Linked DNA regions of Homo sapiens: region 1 is linked to region 2. The links come from fine-mapping of genetic effects on gene expression. Tissue or cell type: esophagus mucosa. Region 2 holds a variant in brackets; the other region holds the start of a gene. All regions are shown on one strand. Distances are between the middles of the regions.

Region 1 (12,082 bases), 120 kb before region 2:
CAAGAATCACTAGCATCTTTTGGCCTCAATCCCAGAATTCTAGGATAGAGAAGCCCATTGGCCCAGTCTGGGTCATGTGACCACTCCTGCTTTAGTCTGCCAGGGATGTGGACTCATAAAGTACAGACAGGGCCGGGCACAGTGGCTCATGCCTTTAATCCCAGCACTTTGGGAGGCCAAGGCGAGTGGATCACTTGAGGCCAGGAGTTCAAGACCATCCTGGCCAACATGGTGAAACCCCATCTCTACCAAAAGTACAAAAATTAGCTGGGTGTGGTGGCATGTGCCTGTAATCCTAGCTACTCAGGAGGCTGGGGCAGGAGAATCGCTTGAACCCGGGAGGCGGAGGTTGCAGTGAGCTGAGATTGCGCCACTGTACTCCAGCCTGGGCAACAGAGCAAGAGTCCGCCTCAAAAAAAAAAAAAAAAAAAAAAGGTACAGACAGGACCGTAGAGGTCATGGAAACGGTGGGAAGCTATCATAAATGGCAAGGTGTGGTCCTTGTAGTCATCCCCAATATATGGTTTATTACAGTGCCCTGTCAGTCTGAAACAAATATTCAGTCTGCTTCGTGTGTACGTTCCAGATGTGGACATGGATACAACAGAGCTTAATGCATTAAATATTTGCTCTGATTGTATACTCACCAAGTCTATTCTGACTAATTCAAAGAGTCCTATGTCACTTGCATTTTTGGAGAGAAAACACTAGCCAGGTTGACATGAATATGCAGACTACTACATACTTATATATCTCACTGTAAATGAACAAACTGCTGTTCGCAACATTAAGATCTTATGAGTTTATTATTTTGGGTTGATGTCACCCAGTTGGATTAACTCTCGGATGCTGATAGAACTGGGATTCTCAGGCTGGAAGGCCAAAGCCTGGCTTTTGCCTCATAGTGAATTCCCACAGGAGATAGCATCTCTACTATCTCTCGGAAGACAGCCATTAGCATGCCAACCACAACACTGGCCTTTCTTTGGAAACTTCCACACTCACTGAAGACATGTTTTGTAAACACAAGATTTTGCAAACATAATTTGAAACCACATACAAATAATTTCTACCAAGTCAAAAAGAAGTGCTCCTTCTCAAGACTCAAAAAAAGCAAACTAGATTTTTAAAACCTTTCTACTGGAAAATACAGCACACAAGTGAACATACAATATCAATGCTCAGAATATGGATAATCACAAAATGAACACTAGTGTGACAACCACCACCACCATTCAGAAATGACCAGCACCCCTAAATACTTCTCCATGTCTCTTTCAGACATATCTTTCTCCCCTCCACCCTGGAGGTAATCACTGTTCTAATTTTTTATGGTAACCATTTCCTTGCTTTTCTTTAAACTTTTGTCATCTATGCTGGATTCTTTAAAAATATAGTTTCTGGGTTTTTTTTTTTTTTTTTTTTTTTTTTGGAGATAGCGTTGCCCTCTGTCACCCAGGCTGGAGTGCAATGATGAGATCTTGACTTACTGCAGTCTCAACCTCCTGGGTTCAAGTGATCCTCCTGTCTCAGCCTCCCCAGTAGCTGGGACTACAGGTATGCGCTACCATGCCTGGCTAATTTTTTTTTCTTTTGAAACAGGGTCTCACTTTGTCGCCCAGGCTAAATTGCAGTGGCACAAGCTTGACTCACTGCAACCTCCGCCTCCCAGGTTCAAGCGATTCTCCCGCCTTGGCCTCCCGAGTAGCTAGGACTACAGGCACGTACCACCATACCTGGCTAATTTTTGTATTTTTTGGTAGTGATGGGGTTTCACCATGTTGACTAGGCTGGTCTTGAACTCCTGACCTCAAGTGATCCACTCGCCTAGGCCTCCCAAACTGCTGGGATTACAGGTGTGAGCCACCGCGCCCAGCCCAGACTTTCCTTGTTTTTGATGACTTCTGAGGAGCAGCAGTCAGATATTTTGTAGAATGCCCCTCTATTGGCATTTATCTGATGTTTTTCTCATGATTACACTGGGGTTATGGGTATGGGGGAGGAAGATCATAGAGGTGAAGTGCCTGCCATTATCATTGTATCACATCAAGGGCACACACTGTCAACATGACCGATCACTGTTGGTGTTGACCTTGATCACATCGCCTAGATAGTATTTGTTGGGTTTTTGCACTGCAAAGCTGCTCTCCCCTCCCCCACACCTTTCCATAGTGTATATAGTACCTTTTGAAGAACATAAATTCTTAATTTTAACTGCATGGTCTGGGAGAGGGGCATGATCTTCGCCTCCACAGGGCTCCTGGATGGGATGTCTCATTTGCAGGGATCAGCTCATGTTATCGCGCTCACTCCGGGATCACTCAGAACTCACTGCTGGACTTAATTGGGGGACGAGGGCGAGACTTAAGGAAGCAAATGGAATTATGTATTCTTTCAAATCTTGCATCTGGACCTCTAGTTTTGAAACTCAAGAGCCAAGAATTTGACATTTGTTTTCAGGTTCTCCTGAGAGTCCTCCCCTCAGGGCAACGGATGGCTGCAGTCTTGCCTATTTGGCCTGTGGGGAGGGTGGAGAAAGGCTTCTTTTAGGCTAACAAATGGGGTCATAACTTCAAATATTGTATTACCCTGCTACACACATATCCATCTCTAAATGCTTCAGTGGAAAAGTTAACCGCACATCACCAGTTGTTTACTGAGCGCTAAAGATTGAATCAGCAGGGCTGCATTCACGAAGCAGAACTGCTGACGATTCAGAATATGACCTTGAGTACATATGCCCTTCCCTAGGCTTCAATCTCTCAATCTATGAAACAAGGAGAGGGCTTCCGACAATGTTTATCTTGCTAAATTCCAAGGTTGTAGAGAACAACAATGCCCCTTTGCAACCTCAGGTGAAAAGGGCCCTTAGGTGTAAAGAATACACTATTCGCTGTTAGCTCAAAAGGGGATGTTATTTCTCAAGACATAAATGGATTGTGAAAGATTGTGAGGTTTTCTGGGGGAATGGGGGGGTGGGGACTTATTTTATATTCCAGTCTATTTACAAATTTTTTCATCTTCCTCAAATTCAAAGAAATAAGAATGTACTAGAAGTCTTAAGAACAGAAACATTCACTCCTTTCCCTGTTTCCTTAAGCTGGATGAAATGGCAGGAGGTCTGCTCCACTTTTAGCTGATTATGTCCCTAAATAAGGTTTAGATAAGTTCTTGCAGGGCCTGTGATTCAAAACCTGTTCTAAGACATGCAGGGAGATGGACAAAGAATTTTAGTTGGTGTGAAAAGATTGTGAATTTATCATGCTTAAAAATGAATTTTTAAAAATGATTAATTTTTTTCCGCCGGGAGCAGTGGCTCACGCCTGTAATCTCAGCACTTTGGGAGGCTTTAGTGGGTGGATCGCCTGAGGTCAGGAGTTCGAGACCAGCCTGGCCAACATGGTGAAACCCCGTCTCTACTAAAAATACAAAAATTAGCCGGGCGTGGTGGTTGGCGCCTGTAATCCCAACTACTTGGGAAGCTGAGGCAGGAGAATTGCTTGAACTCGGGAGTTGGAGGTTGCAGTGAGCTGAGATCGCACCACTGCACTCCAGCCTGGGCAACAAGAGGGAAACTTCGTCTCAACAACAACAAAAAAAGTGATTAATTTTTTTCGAGTCAGTCACATTAGAGTGGATGTTTTGGAGGGGTGCTTTAGACATTTTGGTTCTAATAATTTCACATGCCTGATGGAAAAATCTCTCTTCTCCCTTTCAGAGTTCTCTAAAGTCCCATTTGTACAAATTCTCCTCTAGAGGAAAAGCAAGTTTGAGAGTTTCCTGTTTCTTGACGTTAGGTGAGGAAATCGACTCTGTTCCCTAAATTTGAGAGTGGCTTTGGTAAGCATAGTGTGTTCTAGAAAGTTCAAACTATTTAGTGAGTGTTTCTCTTTTTTTGCTTTCTTTATTTTCTAATAATAAAAAGACAGGGCCTCACTATGTTATCCAGGCTGGTTTTCAACTCCTGGTGTCAAAGGATCTTCCCACCTCGGCCTCTCAAAGCGCTGGGATTACAGGTGTGAGCCACCACACCTGGCCTCGAGAGTGTCTTTCTGATTCAGTTTTCAGTTGGGCAAGGTTTTCCTAGGGTGGGTCTGCTACCTGGGGAACTCCTGGGGTCACTGTTTTTAACTCGCTCTCATTTTTTCATCCTCAGGAAACTCCAAGAAGAAAATGGGACTGGAAACTGAAGAAACAGTAAGGCATTCCCCCCCTCCCCCCCGCCAATAAGTCTGTCTTACATTTGTGCAGTAAATCATGCTCAAACGCCTTCAATGGCTTAGTGTAGGTCTCTTATGTACAATTTAAAATCCTCAATAAATGTGCCTAACTGAAAGTTTTAGCTCTGTGCCTCCTCTCTCATATAATCTCTTATTTGATTACTGATGCTTAACCTGACGGGGCTTTCTCCCCACCTTAACTACAGTTTTCACTGGAACAATCTCCCCATCTCCTATCCTTGGATATGAAATCATTTCCACCTTTCAAGGTCATCAGCTGGGGCGTCATTTTCTACCTACAGACGCTATAGTGTGTCCCTTCTTGCCTCACATCATAGGCAAAAGACTATGAACTGCGGGAGGGGAGGAGCCTGGTCTAATTACTATGTCTAGCCTTCATACATCCTCATAGAACACCTTGCCCAGATTGGAAACTGAGTGAATGGACAAATTAAGTAATTAATTAACTTTCTGTCCCATGACTCCTTGTAGATTGGAAAGTCTTTGGAGGTAGAGTTGCCAGACTTAGCGAATCAAAATATAGGATACCCAGTTATATTTGAATTTCAGATAACCAGTAATACTTCTTTTAATACAAGTATGTCCCATAAATTAATTGCGACATAATAACAAATAATCGTTGTTTACATGAAATTCAAATTTAACTGGGCGCCCTGTATTTTATCTGGCACCACTATGTGGAAGGCAGGGGTTCCCCGTTGCGCCTGGCTTCTTCCCAGTAGGTGCTCGGCGTCTGTATACTTGTTAGAGCGAAACCCCAACCAGCCCCGCCTTTCACAGCTGGCGTCCGTAGCCGGGCGGAGGCACACGACCAGGAAAGACAGACACCCTGGTTGGAGACCGTCGCTCGAGACTGGCAGAAAGATCTGCACTCGGGAGGCACCCTCACCCCGTGGGCTCCGGGACCCCTCGACTAGCTCCATCACCCATTCCGACTACCCGCCCTACGCTCCACCTCTTGACCCGTCATCACCGACCGGGGGGCGGGACTGCCCGACTTTTCAATCGCTGCCTACCATTGGTAGAACTCTCCATCCGTTACTTTAAGTCCCGCCTATCAGGCTGTCGCTTCCCAGGTTACGTCCCTTCCGTAGGCCGCGGCGTAACTGGTGATTGGTGGAGAAAGCGGCAGCTGTCCCAGCGGAAGCGACGAAGGGACGGGACCCGGGAGCCTGGACGAGTCCGAGCGCGTCACCTCCTCACGCTGCGGCTGTCGCCCGTGTCCCGCCGGCCCGTTCCGTGTCGCCCCGCAGTGCTGCGGCCGCCGCGGCACCATGGCTGTGTTTGTCGTGCTCCTGGCGTTGGTGGCGGGTGAGGAGCCGGGGGCCGGCAGGACGTGCCTGGGGAGGTCCTGCGCCGCGGGGCTTGGGGGTCGGGGGCGGCCGCGGGCGAGTAGCTGCGAGGCAGGTGCCGCAGTGCGGTCCGTCAGCGGCGGCCTCGCCTCAGCCGCGTCCCCGTCAGCATCTTCTCTGGATCGGCCGTGGCGGCGCGGCCTCACGGGCCGCCGGGGCCGGGGCTGGGCTGCGTAGGGGGCCCCTGAGCCTGCCTCCACCCTCCACTTTGAGGGCGGCGCGTCCGGCCGGCTTCTTGCGCCTGAAAAGGCCCTTCAGAGTACGGAGATGCATTTCTCAGTGAACTGGGATTGAGTCGCAGCCCGCTGCGAAGAAGAGAAGGCAGACTTTTTAGCTGCCACTGGCTGCCACGATGTTTTTGCATTTGTATGGTGCCTTCATTTCTAGTGGTTGTCATCAGTAATTGCTGAAATCCCTGCCCCTCCCTTCCCTTATGTATATTTCCGGATGCAAAAGTTGAGATGGAGTCATTATTTTTATATGACTTATATTTCTTAAGGCGAATACAAAGCACCTCTCAATAGTTTGTCAGAGTTCCAAATTTTAAGGATTTGGAAACAGGATGTGAGTCGCATTTTTAGGGTCACATGTCAATAAATGGTAGCTTTCTGAGTAGAACCTAGATTCCTAAGCATTCAGCAAGAGGTGAAGAAATCAGCTAATACGTGGCCTCTTACTGCATATCATGTGGTAATGTATTTCATTTGACAGCAGTCCTTAGAGGGCATCATCTTTGTTTTGCAGGGTGATCAACCTAAATAAATTACCCAACACTAAACAGGTTGGGTGCTGGATTTGATTTCAGATGAGGTGGTGCCAGCGCATCGGCCTTTTCCATTATATATGTTGTGTTGCACAAGTAACGCTATTACTGTGTGAGAATGTGGGAGTGATGGGGACTGAGACTGGAGGCACAGACAGTAGTGAACAAGAGGCCAAGTTGAGAACGGCTTGGAGGAATGGGTGCTCTGATCTCAGTGTGTCAGTTTAAAACCTATGGGAGGCCGGGCGCGGTGGTTCACGCCTGTAATCCCGGCACTTTGGGAGGCCGAAGCAGGCAGATCACCTGAGGTCAGGAGTTTGAGACCAGCCTGGCCAACAAGGCAAAACGCCATCTCTACTGCAAATATAAAAATTAGCCGGGTGTGTTGGGGCACACCTGTAATCCCAGCTACTCAGGAGGCTGAGGTACGAGAATCGCTTGAGCCCGGGAGGCGGAGGTTGCAGTGAGCCGAGATCGCGCCATTGCACTCCAGCCTGGGCGATAGAGCCAGACCTTGTCTCAGAAGCAAAAACAAACATACAAACAAACCAAAAACCTATGTGAGGTGTTGGGAGGTCCTGCTTGTGGAATGGCGATTTAATTCTGCACCAGTATGCTCTTGAAATCTGCAGATCTCTGTCCCTAGAGGTGCGGGGGTTTTGTGTGTTAATGATAGTTACGTTGTATCCATGCCCCAAACGTTTTCGAGTTCTTTGTTTCTTTCTTCTGTTTCTGGCTCTGGAAAGGTCTTTCTGATCTACTGAGATACTTTGAGGGAATTAATTTTAATTCAGTTTTTGAAATTTTAAAAATATTCCCTTTGATCCTGTGGTTTAACTGAACATCTATTGAGATTCCATGTTTTAATATTTTGACTGATATTATTTTGATTCAGTGAGGTATAGGCTTTTTTGTTTTGGGTCTGAGATAAAATAATTGCTTCTGCACATGGTTTGAACATGTTTTCCTTACTAGCATAGCCGAGTTCATACAGAACAAGAACCTGATCCTGTCAGCTTCTGAATTGCTCAGTCTTGTCAGATGAGGTTCAGTTATTATTTTCCACAATGACTAAATGTGATGTAGTGGAAAACATCTTTAAGAGCTCTGACTTCTCTATTCCAGGCAGAAACAAAAATAGAAATCCTTTAAAACAGTGTTGCCAAACTAGAGGGAGAACTAGGGACCTAGAGAGAGAGGAAGGGAACTAGGATTTTGAATACCATATCATGAGGCGTATTTGATAAAATTCAGATATTTAGCCTGGAGAAGAAAGGCCAAGGGTGAACACATGGAATTTGAAGTGATGTCATGTAGAAGAGGGAGATAGGATCCATTTTTTTATTATTATTGATTCCATCCACCATTCGTAGACGATAATAGCACAGTATAGTGGAGTTCCTAGAGGGAAGGACACTTAGCCCAGACTGGGGAGGCTGAGGAAAATTTCCCATGGGAGGTGCCTCCCAGGGCTAATGTGTTGAAAAGTTGGGGTGGGAAGAAAAGGTATTTGAAACAGAACAGCATGTGTAAAAGCATGGCGATGTGAGAGCAAAGGGGCAAGTAGTTTGGTGGGGCTGAAATGTACAGGATTAAGTTGGGGAGATACCAGAAATAAGGCTGATGAGGTTTCTTGGGTGTTAATGCTTTGGGTTTTGCCTCAGAGTCTCTGGGCAGTGAGAGAAGGCATTTAAGCAGAAGGGTGAATGATCAGATCTGTATTTTGAAGCAGTTATGGGAAAGGCTGGATTAGAGAGTGGCATGACAAGGGTCATAAGGCACCCAATTCTAGCAAACCTGGAGAGGGCCTGAAGAGTGTGCCCTGGACATAGAGGGGAAAGGATTTGTGAGATAAGAAAAAAAGATGAAATTCAGTGGCTAATTAGCTGTGTTGCTGAGGAAGATTTAAAGACGACTGATTCCAGCCACTGGGTGGAAGGAAGGTGGTATCATCCTTCAAGATAGAATACAGGAGAAGTGTGTGGAAAGATGGTGAATTGGGTGTGTTTTTGGTGTTTGCAGCCTTAGGAGTAGTTGGGCTCAGCCTGGGAGAGATGTAGAATAGGAAAGCAGTAAGAGTCAAGAATGGAGCCCTCAGATCTCCAAAGTGGAGTATGCTAGGTGATCCATTTGGATGCCAGATGAATGTACTAGAAATTCCATTTATATCCTTTTTGTTTTTGTTTTTGAGACAGGGTCTCACTCCGTCACCCAGGCTGGAGTGCACTGGTGTGATCACAGCTCACTGCAGCCTCGACCACCCAGGCTCAAGCGATTCTCCCACCTCAGCCTCCCTAGTAGCTGGGACCACAGGCGCATGCCACCATACCCAGCTAATTTTTTGTTTGTTTTTGTAGAGATGAGGTCTCAAACTCTTGGGCTCAAGTGATCCTCCTCCTCAGCCTCCCAAAGTGCTGGGATTACACGCAGGTGTGAGCCATCGCACCCAGCCTCTATCTTTTTTTTTTTTTTTTTCCTTTTTTGAGACAGAGTCTTGCTCTGTCACCCAGGCTGAAGTGCAGTGGCACGATCTCGGCTCACTACAACCTCCGCCTCTGGGGTTCAAGTGATTCTTGTCCCTCAGCCTCCCAAGTAGCTGGGACTACTCTTGTTGCCCAGGCTGGAATGCAATGGCATGATCTTGGCTCACTGCAAGCTCCACCTTCCGGGTTCAAGTGATTCTCCTGCCTCAGTCTCCCGAGTAGCTAGGATTACAGGCATGCACCACCATGCCTGGCTAATTTTGTATTTTTTTAGTGGAGACGGGGTTTCTCCATGTTGGTCAGGCTGGTCTTGAACTCCCAACCTCAGGTGCTCTGCCTCTTGAGTAGCTGGGACTACAGGCATGCACCACCACATCTGTCTAACTTGTGTATTTTTTTGGTAGAGACGGGGTTTCACTATGTTCACCAGACTGGTCTCAAACTCCTGACCTCAAATGATCTGCCTGCCTCAGCCTCTGAAAGTGCTGGGATTACAGGCATGAGCCACCACACCTGGCCTCATTTTTGTATTTTTAGTAGAGATGAGGTTTCGCCATTATGGCCAGGCTGGTCTTGAACTCTTGGCCTCAAGTGATCCGCCTGTCTTGGCCTCCCAAAGTGCTGGGATTACAGGTGTGAGCCATCATGCCTGGCCTATTTTTATCTTATCTCTTTTTGAATAATAATGGTCAGGTATTTTGTAGACTGTCCCTCAATTTGGGTTTATCTGATGTTTTCTCATTATTAGATTGGGAAAAATACTACACAGGTATCTCATCCTTTTAAAAACTTTTATTTTTGTATGCTTTGTAATATAGCACAAATCAAATACATAATCTATTACTATAGTAGAAGTATATACTTTACATGGAGAGGATGAGAGGGACAGAGAGAAGAAAGAAGGGCTACTTTCCAATTTTGGGCTGACAGGGTTGAAATCTAAAAAGTTTGGCTACCACTGCTTTAAAGGACAGGAAGGGAAAGAAACAGAGGAGAAGCAGCCAAAGGGATTGCAAGGAAAACCAGGAGCCGTGGCTGCATGAAGACCAAAGCAGGGGCTTTTCAAGGAGGGAGTTGCCAGTATCAAATGCTTTGGGAAGTTAGATAAAATTAAGGGATGGAAATTGCCTTTTGAGTTTGGGGAGTCGTTTCAGTGGCATGGTGGGCTTGGAAGGTGTGGGCGGCCAGGTGGGGTGGCTCACGCCTGTAATCCCAGCACTTTGGGAGGCCGAGGCAGGCGGATTGTTTGAGGTCAGGAGTTCGAGACCAGTCTGGCCAACGTAGTGAAACCCTGTCTCTACCAAAAAAATACACAAGTTAGCCAGACGTGGTGGTGCGTGCCTGTAGTCCCAGCCACTCAGGAGTCTGAGGCAGGAGAATCTCTTGAACCTGGGAGGTGGAGGTTGCGGTGAGCTGAGATCCTTACCACTGCACTCCAACCTGGGTGACAGCAAGACCCTGTCTCAAAAAATAAAAATAAAAAAAATTTTTAAAATTTTGTGGGTTAAGTAGTAAACTTAAAATGAAGTATAGAAGCAAACGGTGGTTGACTGCTCTTCCTGGATTCTTCCTCTGAAGGGGAGCAAGGCTGGTAGCTGGTGGAGACTGGTAGGACCAAAGGAGGTTTTTTATGGTTTTAGTTATAGAATGGGAGTGCCTTGAGCGTATTTTTATGCTGAAGTGAAAGGGCCAGTGGAGAGGGAAAAAACTGGTGGTTTGAAGTGTGACTTCATTCATTCATTAACTCAACAAGTACTTATTGAGCACCAATGTGTCGGGCTCTGTTCTCAGCCCTGGGGATAGTGTGTGAACAAGACGCACTGAAATCCCCGCCTTCATGGAGCTTGTATTCTATAGGGCCATCTTTTGATGGCTATTACCATATAGCCACCTCACTCCTGATGTGTTGTCTGTCCTAGAAGAGTGGCTTCCTTAACAAACAGTGAAGGAACAAAGGTCCCTAAAAAGACTGAACACAGGATTGTCTTAGTCTGGAGGAGGGACATCCCTGCCCTCATGTCTGGAGGGAGAGGAGTTACAGATAGGGGCTTATGCAGATAAATTTGTGGTGGGGAGAGGAAGCAGGTAGCTCAAGAAATTCCTCTGTTTTCTCTGTGAAGCTGGAGATGAGGTTATCTGGTGAGACTGAGTTGGGGAGTGATAGCATAGGAAGTTGAAAGTTAGGAAGCCCATTTCAGTTCAGTACAAGGAAAAACTTTTCAAAGGACTAGAATGTTAGGAAAATGGAGCCAGTTGCTGGCAAATGTAGTTCGTATATTGAGGTGGTGTCCCCATCACTGGTAGTATTGAAATAGAGGAGGGGTGACTTTCTGCCAGGTATCCCTGAGACATGCTTATACTTATAATAAGCAGAAGTTTGGACAAATGACCTTCCTCTGTATAGGAGTCCCTGACTCTAAGGTTTTCTAAAGCTCTGGGCTTCTGAAGGACTGTTGTACAGGCATGGAAGTTGAAACTACGAAGCTGGGGCAAAGTTATTTGGTATAGGTTTGCCAGAATTGAATGAGTAGGGCCGTGTCTCAAAACAAGGGTATCTCCAAATCAAAATATGGTTTTTTAAATGTGTATGGTACCTGGGGCTGGGCGCGGTGGCTCACGCCTGTAATCCCAGCACATAGGGAGGCTGAGGCGGGCCGATCACTTGAGGTCAGGAGTTTGAGACCAGCTTGGCTAACATGGTGTCACCCTGTCTCTACTGAAAATACAAAATTTAGCCAGGCATGGTGGCACACACCTGTAATCCCAGCTACTTGGGAGGCTGAGGCAGGAGAATTGCTTGAACCTGGCAGGCAGAGGTTGCAGTGAGCCAATATTGTGCCACTGCACTCCAGCCTAGGCGACAGTGTGAGACTCTGTCTCAAAACAAACAAACAAAATATGTGTATGGTTCTTGGGAAGCATAGGTCTCTTGGTTCCCCATTTTTCTTAGTGTTTGCAGTACTACTACTTTAGTGAACCAAGATATCTATCAGTTACAAAAGACCATTCCATTCTGCTAATTTTTTTGGTCTGTCTTCAGCTAGAGCAGTTTGGACATTCCTGTTCTGACAGCTGTGCCGGATTGAAATTTGTAACTCCCGTGTATCAGCACCAACCTGAAGCCTTTTATTTACTGTCAATACTGCAACACCAAAACATTTACTGTTGCTTCCAACTTTATTTCCATCCCCTGTTAGTGGTACTTTCCTTAGGTCAAGAGAATAACACTGATTCTTTACTAAA
Region 2 (8,000 bases):
AGACTATTTTCTGTTGCTTTTCTAATTTTTGTGTGTTTAAGTTTTTTATTTATGAGTATGTACTATGTTAATAATCAGAAAAACAGTTAAATATAAGTTTTGTTTTTTTTTTTTTTTTTTGAGACGGAGTCTCGCTCTACCGCCCAGGCTGGAGTGCAGTGGCGCGATCTCGGCTCACTGCAATCTCCGCCTCCCAGGTTCACGCCATTCTCCTGCCTCAGCCTCCCGAGTAGCTGGGACTACAGGCACCCGCCACCACGTCTGGCTAATTTTTTGTGTTTTTAGTAGAGACAGGGTTTCACCGTGTTAGCCAGGATGGTCTCGATCTCCTGACATTGTGATTCGCCCACTTCGGCCTCCCAAAGTGCTGGGATTACAGGCGTTTGAGCCACCACGCCTGGCCTAAATATAAGTTTTTAAGAACAAACAACATTTGCCTTATTTGGAACCCACAGTTAAAGTAATTCATAAATGCGTCATTTAGCCATCATAAATGTGATGTCATTCAAAGTAATTAGTTCAGTTTTCCATGAGCAGCCCATAGAAAAAAAATCTATAGCTATAAAATATAACCAGAAAGCCCTTTATTTTCAACCTTTCTAGCTGAATATTAATTTCAAATAGCAGATGTCCTAATATATTCAAGAACACTGTCCAGTAGCAATACAAAAACACTAAATTCTTATTTCATCATTTCATAACACTGACTCAGTAACAGAACAAGTAAGAAATCAAACTTTAATTTCTACTGTGTTTAGGCCAGAAAAAAAAATCCTTTCCTCCAGGATTCTGTACCTCAAGTCATCTTAGATGTTTCTACTGTCATAAAAATGTTCTTCAGCCACAAATGACATTAGAATTCCTTATTGTGATTTCCATGTCACCCAGTGGTAAAATAGAAACTGAGCTACTGGGATAGATAAGTTAACCTAAAAAACAGCAGCCATCAACATTATTAATTTTGCATAAGGAAACACGAATGTGCGTTATACTGGGAAGTTTAACATCTGCTACAAGAAAATCCAAAGTAGTTAAAACGGCCCCGAGGAACTGACATCAGTCAGAGTTATGGTTTCCATACCCACTTTCAACACTGCATATACCATTCTTTCTAATACCTAATGACAGAAAATGTTTATTTTGTTTTTGTTAAAAATAATTTTTCTTACATTGAATGATTATATCATTTAGTAACTTACCAAGTCCATAAAGCATCAATTGAAACATTCCAGAATGTAAATCTACAAAAATGTGCAGACACTCTGAATTACCACAGGGCTCCAAGATGGGAACAACAAGAGCTGGGAGTGCAGTCTCTATGGAAGCTGAACAATCAAGAATTAAAAATTATTTTTCTATCTGAATATTTTCCAGAAAAATTATTTCTCAATCAATGAGTACAAACAAACCAACTATTGAAGGATCCTAAATGTTAGAGGAAAAACATGATTTTGCAAAATTTGCAATAGTATTATTATGTCAGTTAGCAGCTCAAAAAGGAAAGAATGTAATTTTCAAGGTGACTTGAAACAAACATGCCTGTCTCAAATACTACAGCAAAAAAAATCCAAAGTTTCTTAAAGAGGGTTGAAATAGCTAGTGAAAATTCAACTTCATCAGTGAGCTGAGTTCTAGTTTTACTTTCACTTGGTAATTACTAATAAGCTAATTAATTTTTAAGGATTTTCTCTTTTGTATAATGGAAAGAAAACTAGTTGTTTATAAACAGAATAAATATCTTCTATGGCCTCATGATTTTCAATGCCATTCCTCATAAAAAAGAGGTATTCTGGCAATTAGAGCCCATGTGTTTAAACTAATAAATATTATTGATTACCCAGGAAGAAAAATTTTTTTCAAGTCATTTGTATACTCCATTTCAAGTCACAGATGAATTAAGAACATAGGCAATTGCTAAACACAAATCCCCAAAGCTGACAATATGCCTGATCTAGAGTTTCACAGTATTTCCACGAGGCCCAATTAACTTTTCTCTTAATTCTGCAAGTGACATAATGAAATCCAGTAAACAAGCAAAACACTGAAAACACACTAAGTGCTGATCAGATTGAGGGGTTGTAAAAGGAATATGCTCTTCTTGTTACCAAGTTCCTCTGAAGCTACAGCACAGAAAAAAAAGGCAGATACAGAGGAGAATGGTGATGCAGGTGCTCGGAAGGAGAGGTAACGTGGCAGGCGCAGAGGGGAGTGGCGATGCAGGCCTTTCACCAGGCGTGGCTTCTGCCTGCTTTTTTGTCAAACAAGGAAAATAACATCTTCCCCTCCATGCCACAGGTTGTTAGGAGCAAGAAATGACAAGGCTGTAAAAGTGCTTTAAAAAGCAAAGTGTTTGACAAATGTATATTATCTATATTCCTTTTGAATCAAAGAAACAAACCAAAACCTTTTACTATAAATTTTCAATAATTCAAATGGATGACATTACCATTGGTACTGTCTACACAAATTATCAAACAAATTAATAAAGTAAAAGATTGCAGAAGACATATTTAATTAGAGAGAAATAAATTGCTTTAAAACATAGGGTGAGCATCCTAAACTCCAAAATTTGAAATGCTCCAAAATCCAAAATTTTTTGAGCGCTGACATGATGCTCAAAGGAAATGCTTAATGAAGCATTTTGGATTTCGGATTTTCAGATTTGGGATGCCCAACCAGTAAGTACAAATGCAAATATTCCAAAACCCAAAAAAAATCCGAGATCTGAAATACTTCTGGTCTCAAGCATTTCAGATAAGGGATACTCAACCTGTACATCTAATACATATTTGTATACAAAATGTTTAACATGCAAATCCAGCAGAACTCTGACCTGAAAAAAACAGAACAAAAAGGGCAAAAACAAAAATTTCTTTTACCATATAATTCAGACCAATGTGACAAATTAGTTCAAATCAGTGACATTTTGCTGAACTTACTATGTTAATAAAAAGTTATTACAAATGTGAAACAGAGTTGCTGATTTTTGAAACATTTCCATAGTGTCACAATTCCTGACAGGGTAGGAGTGAATTCTCTAAAGCAAAACCATTTCTAAAGCGTGGCAACAGAGTAAAACTAGTTCTGGGAATTGGGGTAACAATTATAATTTCAATCTAATTACCACAATTGAGTATTCTTAGAAAAATAGGGCATCAGAGAAGAATACAGATAACACAGTTCAAAAGACAAGAAATACTCTGATACAAATCGATGTACAATTTTTTGACTACCAATGTCCATATTTTTCTTTACAGAAAATAAAATACACAATGCCCTAAAGCATTTAAAGGCAACAGGTTTTAGGTATACAAAAATGGGGAAACTTGCAAAGAAAATAAAGAAGAGGGAATTAAAAGCAGTGTAAGATGACAGGACTTGCTGCTATTTCGTCCTGCCAGAACATATATATATCTCCTTTTATTTCTATCATTTATTGAGAACAAGATGAGAATGGATAACAGACAGAATATAAAGTGTGAAGAGTGAAGAGCGGCAACTAAGCTCAATTAGGAATGGCTGTGTGTGGTTCA[T/C]AGCTTCCAAACTGATCATGATGCCCTGATTATAAGTGCTGAAGGGTAGAGTACAACATAAGGGAGCAGCACCCTGGCTTTCAAGAGTTAGGCAATGCTGCCAACTGGGCCATATCTCAAGTTACCTTTAGTACCTTGCACTGCTTTTTTGGAACTTATCTCCAAAGTCCTGCCTCCTCTCCCCTAAACCATTTCTACCCCCACGAAACCACATGCCTGAGCTGCTCAAAACCTGAAGTCTATGCCTTCCCCTAGCCTTCCCTTGAAATGCTCCACTCTCTGAGCTACTCATTTCCTTGGGTTATTCCAGTTAGGTGTTAGAAGAAAAGCCAGCTGATTTAAGGGTGACTGCGCTAAGGGATTCTAAGAATAGACTATGTAGTCCCTCATCCCAGTAAGGATCTTAATAAAGCATGCTCGCCCATCACAAAAAAGGATCAAGTAAGACTACATGGAGAGTATAAATGCATGCACATGAATTTAAAGAACAAGTTAAAGCACATGCCCTAAGATGGTGGGTCGGCAGACCCTTTCCTCTAGCAGTCCTCATTTCTAGAACTGTCCTGATTAAAGCAGAACTGAGGAGATCAACCCCGCATGCAAGCTTCTCCCTTCCTTCCAAATTATAGTCCCTAAGTCACCCTTCTCTAACACCTGGGACTCTACAAAACACCTAGGGCTTGAAAACCACTGGTGTAGCACATTCCTACTAGAGTTTAAGATCTAGGAAGAGCCTGGACTATTATAATATCCTCAAATTTCAGATGAGGAGAATGGCCCAAATAGTGTAAATGACTTGTTCAAGAGCAGACAGCTGAACTCAGATCTCTAACATTTCTACAAAAAGGAATTTTACACTTGGGTTCTGAAGATTTCTCTAAATTTCTCTTTAGAAATCTTCAGAACCTAGGTGAACAGCACACAAAACCATTCCTATGTAAACGTATGCTTTGAGTTTATTTTTCAAAGTAATTTAACTATCCCTTGGCAATCATAGTTTTTTGTTTCTGTTTTTTAACTTACTAAGTTTTTGTTCTGTTTTTTAACTTACTAAGCCTTGCTTACAGATGATACTAAAGTAAACCAGAGCCTATCAAAAGATTACAAACTCCCTATTTTCTGGAATCTCAACAAACGAAGTTTTGAAAAATTAGAAAAATTAAGATTGCAAAATACTTAAAGTCTTCTTTAAGAACAAAAGAGTTGGACATGGTGGTTCATGCTTGTAATCCCAGCACTTTGGGAGGCCAATGTGGTAGGATTGCTTGAGCCCAGGAGCATAAGACCAGCCTGTTCAGCAGGCCATGGACTTAAAATAGATACATAGATGGATAGATAGATAGATAGATAGATAGATAGATAGATAGATAGATAGAGACCAGCCTGGGCAACACAGTGAGACTCCATTTCTTAAAAAAGAACAAAAGGGGAATTTCAACAAGGGTGACAAGACAATTAAACAGGAGAAAATAGTCTTCAACAAATGTTACTGAGATAACTGCATATCCTCACGTAAAAGAATGCAAACAATAACAAGTATTGGTGAGGATGTGGAGAAAATGAAACCTTCCCACATTGCTGGTTAGATTGTAAAGTGGTGTTAAACACGTCAAAAGGTTAAACAGTTACAAGACCCGGCCATTACACTCCTAGGTGTACAGCCAAGAGAAATGAAAACTTACGTCCACATAAAAACTTGGGCATGAATGTTCATAGCAGCATTATCCACAATAGCCAAAAAAGAAAAACAACCCCAATGTTCAACAATGATGAATGGATAAACAAAAGATGGTATAGCCATACAATGGATTATTTGACAATAAAAGTGAATGAAGTATTGAAACATGCTGTGAACCTCAAAAAAAATGTGTTAAAAACAGTATGTAAGAGACCACACATTATGATTCCATTTATATGAAATGTCCAAATAGGCAAATCTATAGAGTTAGAAAGTAGATTAATGATTGCCAAAAGGGAGGCAGGAAGGGAGAGGAGTGAATGGGTTGTGACTGCTAATGGGTACACGGTTTCTTTCTGGGATGATTAAAATGTTCTAAAATCAAATTGTGGTGATAGTTGCACAACTCTTTCAGTAAAAACCATTGAATGAGGTAATTATATGTGAATTATATCTCAATAAAGCTGTTAAGAAAAAAAGACGAAAAGGCAGTGGTGGTTAGTAGCCTTTCTAATTCCAGTGAGAGTTTCAATTATACTTTCCAATCATAATTTTTAGGTCTGTATTTAACATCTTTGCTTGAGGGATTAAAGGGGAGGGCCTTCTACTGAAGCTTTTAATTAAATTAAGATAATGAAGTACTGATAAAGCTAATGTTAAACCCTGATAGGGCTAATGGACAGGCACCCCCAAGACACATCTAACCAATACATTCACCAAATTTCTGGCAGATCCTTTATTTCTTTTTTAAGGCCCATATTTGCATTTTTGTTAAGTTAGGCTGCCCCTCTCCTTAGTCTCTTTAAAAATATAAGCTAATGCTTTGGTTTATCTTAGATCCCCTCTTTCACCTCTATCTTTTCACTTTCCTTGAATGAGTATGTATTCTAAATACACACTTATTTTTCTAACTTTCTGTCTTTCCTTCAGGCAATTTTTTAAAATCTATTTCTGTCAAAGTGATTTTAATCCAGAGTTACTAGTACATACCTAAGAAGCTGCTTCTTTAAGTATAATGGATTGAGCTGAGCTCTGTGATGACAAAAGGCAGCACCTTCGTTACTAGCACTATTAAGACTTCCTACTTATAAGGCACTTCACTTACGTCATCTAACTTAATTAAAGACTGTGCACTGTGGGCACAAGGTAATTATGGCCAAAAACAATTGGGGCAGGGATAGTAAATATGCCCATTATGATGTTGCGAACCTATATTCCCAGAATGAAAGGGTTTACTTTCTAAATGACTGTCCCTCAAAGCTCTGAATATACTTACTAGGTAATTAAACTTGGAAGATTTTTCACTATGTCCATGTATCTGCATTCCTTATTTGAACTGTTAATAATTTTTAAAAATTTTTTAAAAAGACAAGGGATGAATTCTGCTTCACTCAAAGGGGCATATTTTACAAGTATATTATAAATATTTGGAATGCTGTTTTATCACTAGAAAAAAGTTTAAAAATAAGGTTCATATTAAAATGTTAGCTCATGTTTCATAAAGTTTTTCTTTTTTATTTAAAAAATTTTATAAATAGAGACGGGGTCTCATTTTTTGCCCTGGCTTGTCTAAAGCTCCTGGCCTCAAGTGATCCTTACATCTCGGCCTCCCAAAGTGCTGGTATTACAGGTGTGAGCCACCATGCCCAGCCCCATTTCATAAAGTTTTAAGGAAATCCAATACACAAATATTTCAAAAATAAGGCCAAGCTAAATAAGTAACAAGGGAAAAATTAGCATAAGTTTGGCAGATCACAAGTTAAAATGCAGAAATACCAGCTTCCACAATAAAAGCAAAATATCAAGAAAAAGTCATATTAAGATTCTCATCAAATAAAACTGGATTCTAGTTTAAACAAAAGAAAAACAAATGTCAATTTAAAAGAACCTACAGTTTTCATTGGCATTGAAGCCTCTAAGAATGGCCTTCAGTTCTTGGAGCTTCTGATGAGCTCTTGCATGGACACTGTCAATCAGGAGTTTTTCTATTGATAAGTGGTCGATCTGCATAAATAAGAACAACAAATTCAAATGTGCAATTTAAACATTTTTACTTTAAAAGCCCAAGAGTAGATTACTGTGCTTCAAAATATTTCCTTTTGGAATCACACTGATTAAGTGTTAACCCTAATAGAAAGCAAACTTAAAGTTAAAAATTAACTAATATGGTATTGAGTTAAAAATTAACTTACAATTGATAGCTTAAAAACTATAGTTAACATTTTGGTAAGTAATAGGAGAAGATATTACAAATCAGTTATGGTGCTCTAATGCCAGACCTTAAAATTAAAATGGTATCTGATCTAAATTATAAAATATGAAAGAATATCTTAAAAATTATATATTATAGTATCAGATGTTTTAAAAAAACAAATGTAAGAAGTGTAACATTTACTTAAAATAAGTTTCATAAAAGGTTTTAGGAAGAATTAGATATTTTTAAAAATTTGTGCTAAGAGTTTAAGGATAAATGGCAAGTTACATTCATTTAAACCAATATGAAAATATATTGAGATCTTTTACCTTCATGGCTCTTTCTACTAATTTGGAATCAGAAGCTGGCAAAGGAGGATCGTGAAAAATCTGTAAAGGCTTGGAGACATCATTCTCATCAATTTTAATTGTAACTTTGTGAACAGATGCTGTTCCAGTTTTTCTCCCAAGAACCTGTTGACTAAAGAAAAAAATGAAATGAAGAATTTTTTTCAACACAGTCTGTTAACTTCTAGAATAAAATAGAGACAATCCATTGTGCAGTTTAGCCACAGCCTGGAATACGGCAGGCCCCC

Direction of the effects. Alleles are on the strand shown, and positions count from the first base shown. SD is a standard deviation of normalised expression in the study named.
For the expression in esophagus mucosa of the gene that starts at base 5,420 in region 1, allele T in region 2 goes with a higher level than allele C (moderate effect, 0.40 SD a copy in GTEx).

Evidence for each region. PIP is the estimated chance that this variant, and not a neighbour inherited with it, causes the effect. A credible set is the group of variants that fine-mapping cannot tell apart.
Region 1: it holds the start of ATP6AP2, and the variant in region 2 is the best candidate, but not a certain one, in a credible set for the expression of ATP6AP2 in esophagus mucosa (GTEx, PIP 0.79).

Annotation. Positions count from the first base shown.
Region 1 is chrX:40,575,551-40,587,632 of GRCh38, forward strand. It overlaps ATP6AP2 (ATPase H+ transporting accessory protein 2), which reads left to right and starts at 5,420. Exons shown (of 9, transcript NM_005765.3): 1 at 5,420-5,552. The coding sequence starts at 5,516. RefSeq lists enhancers at 4,920-5,069, 5,120-5,329 and a silencer at 5,490-5,799.
Region 2 is chrX:40,702,245-40,710,244 of GRCh38, forward strand. It overlaps MED14 (mediator complex subunit 14), which reads right to left. Exons shown (of 31, transcript NM_004229.4): 9 at 7,735-7,885; 10 at 7,104-7,215; 11 at 1,200-1,325. Among named protein-coding and RNA genes, the nearest start is that of MED14, 29 kb to the right of the region's middle. The variant T/C (reference allele first, on the strand shown) is at 3,534.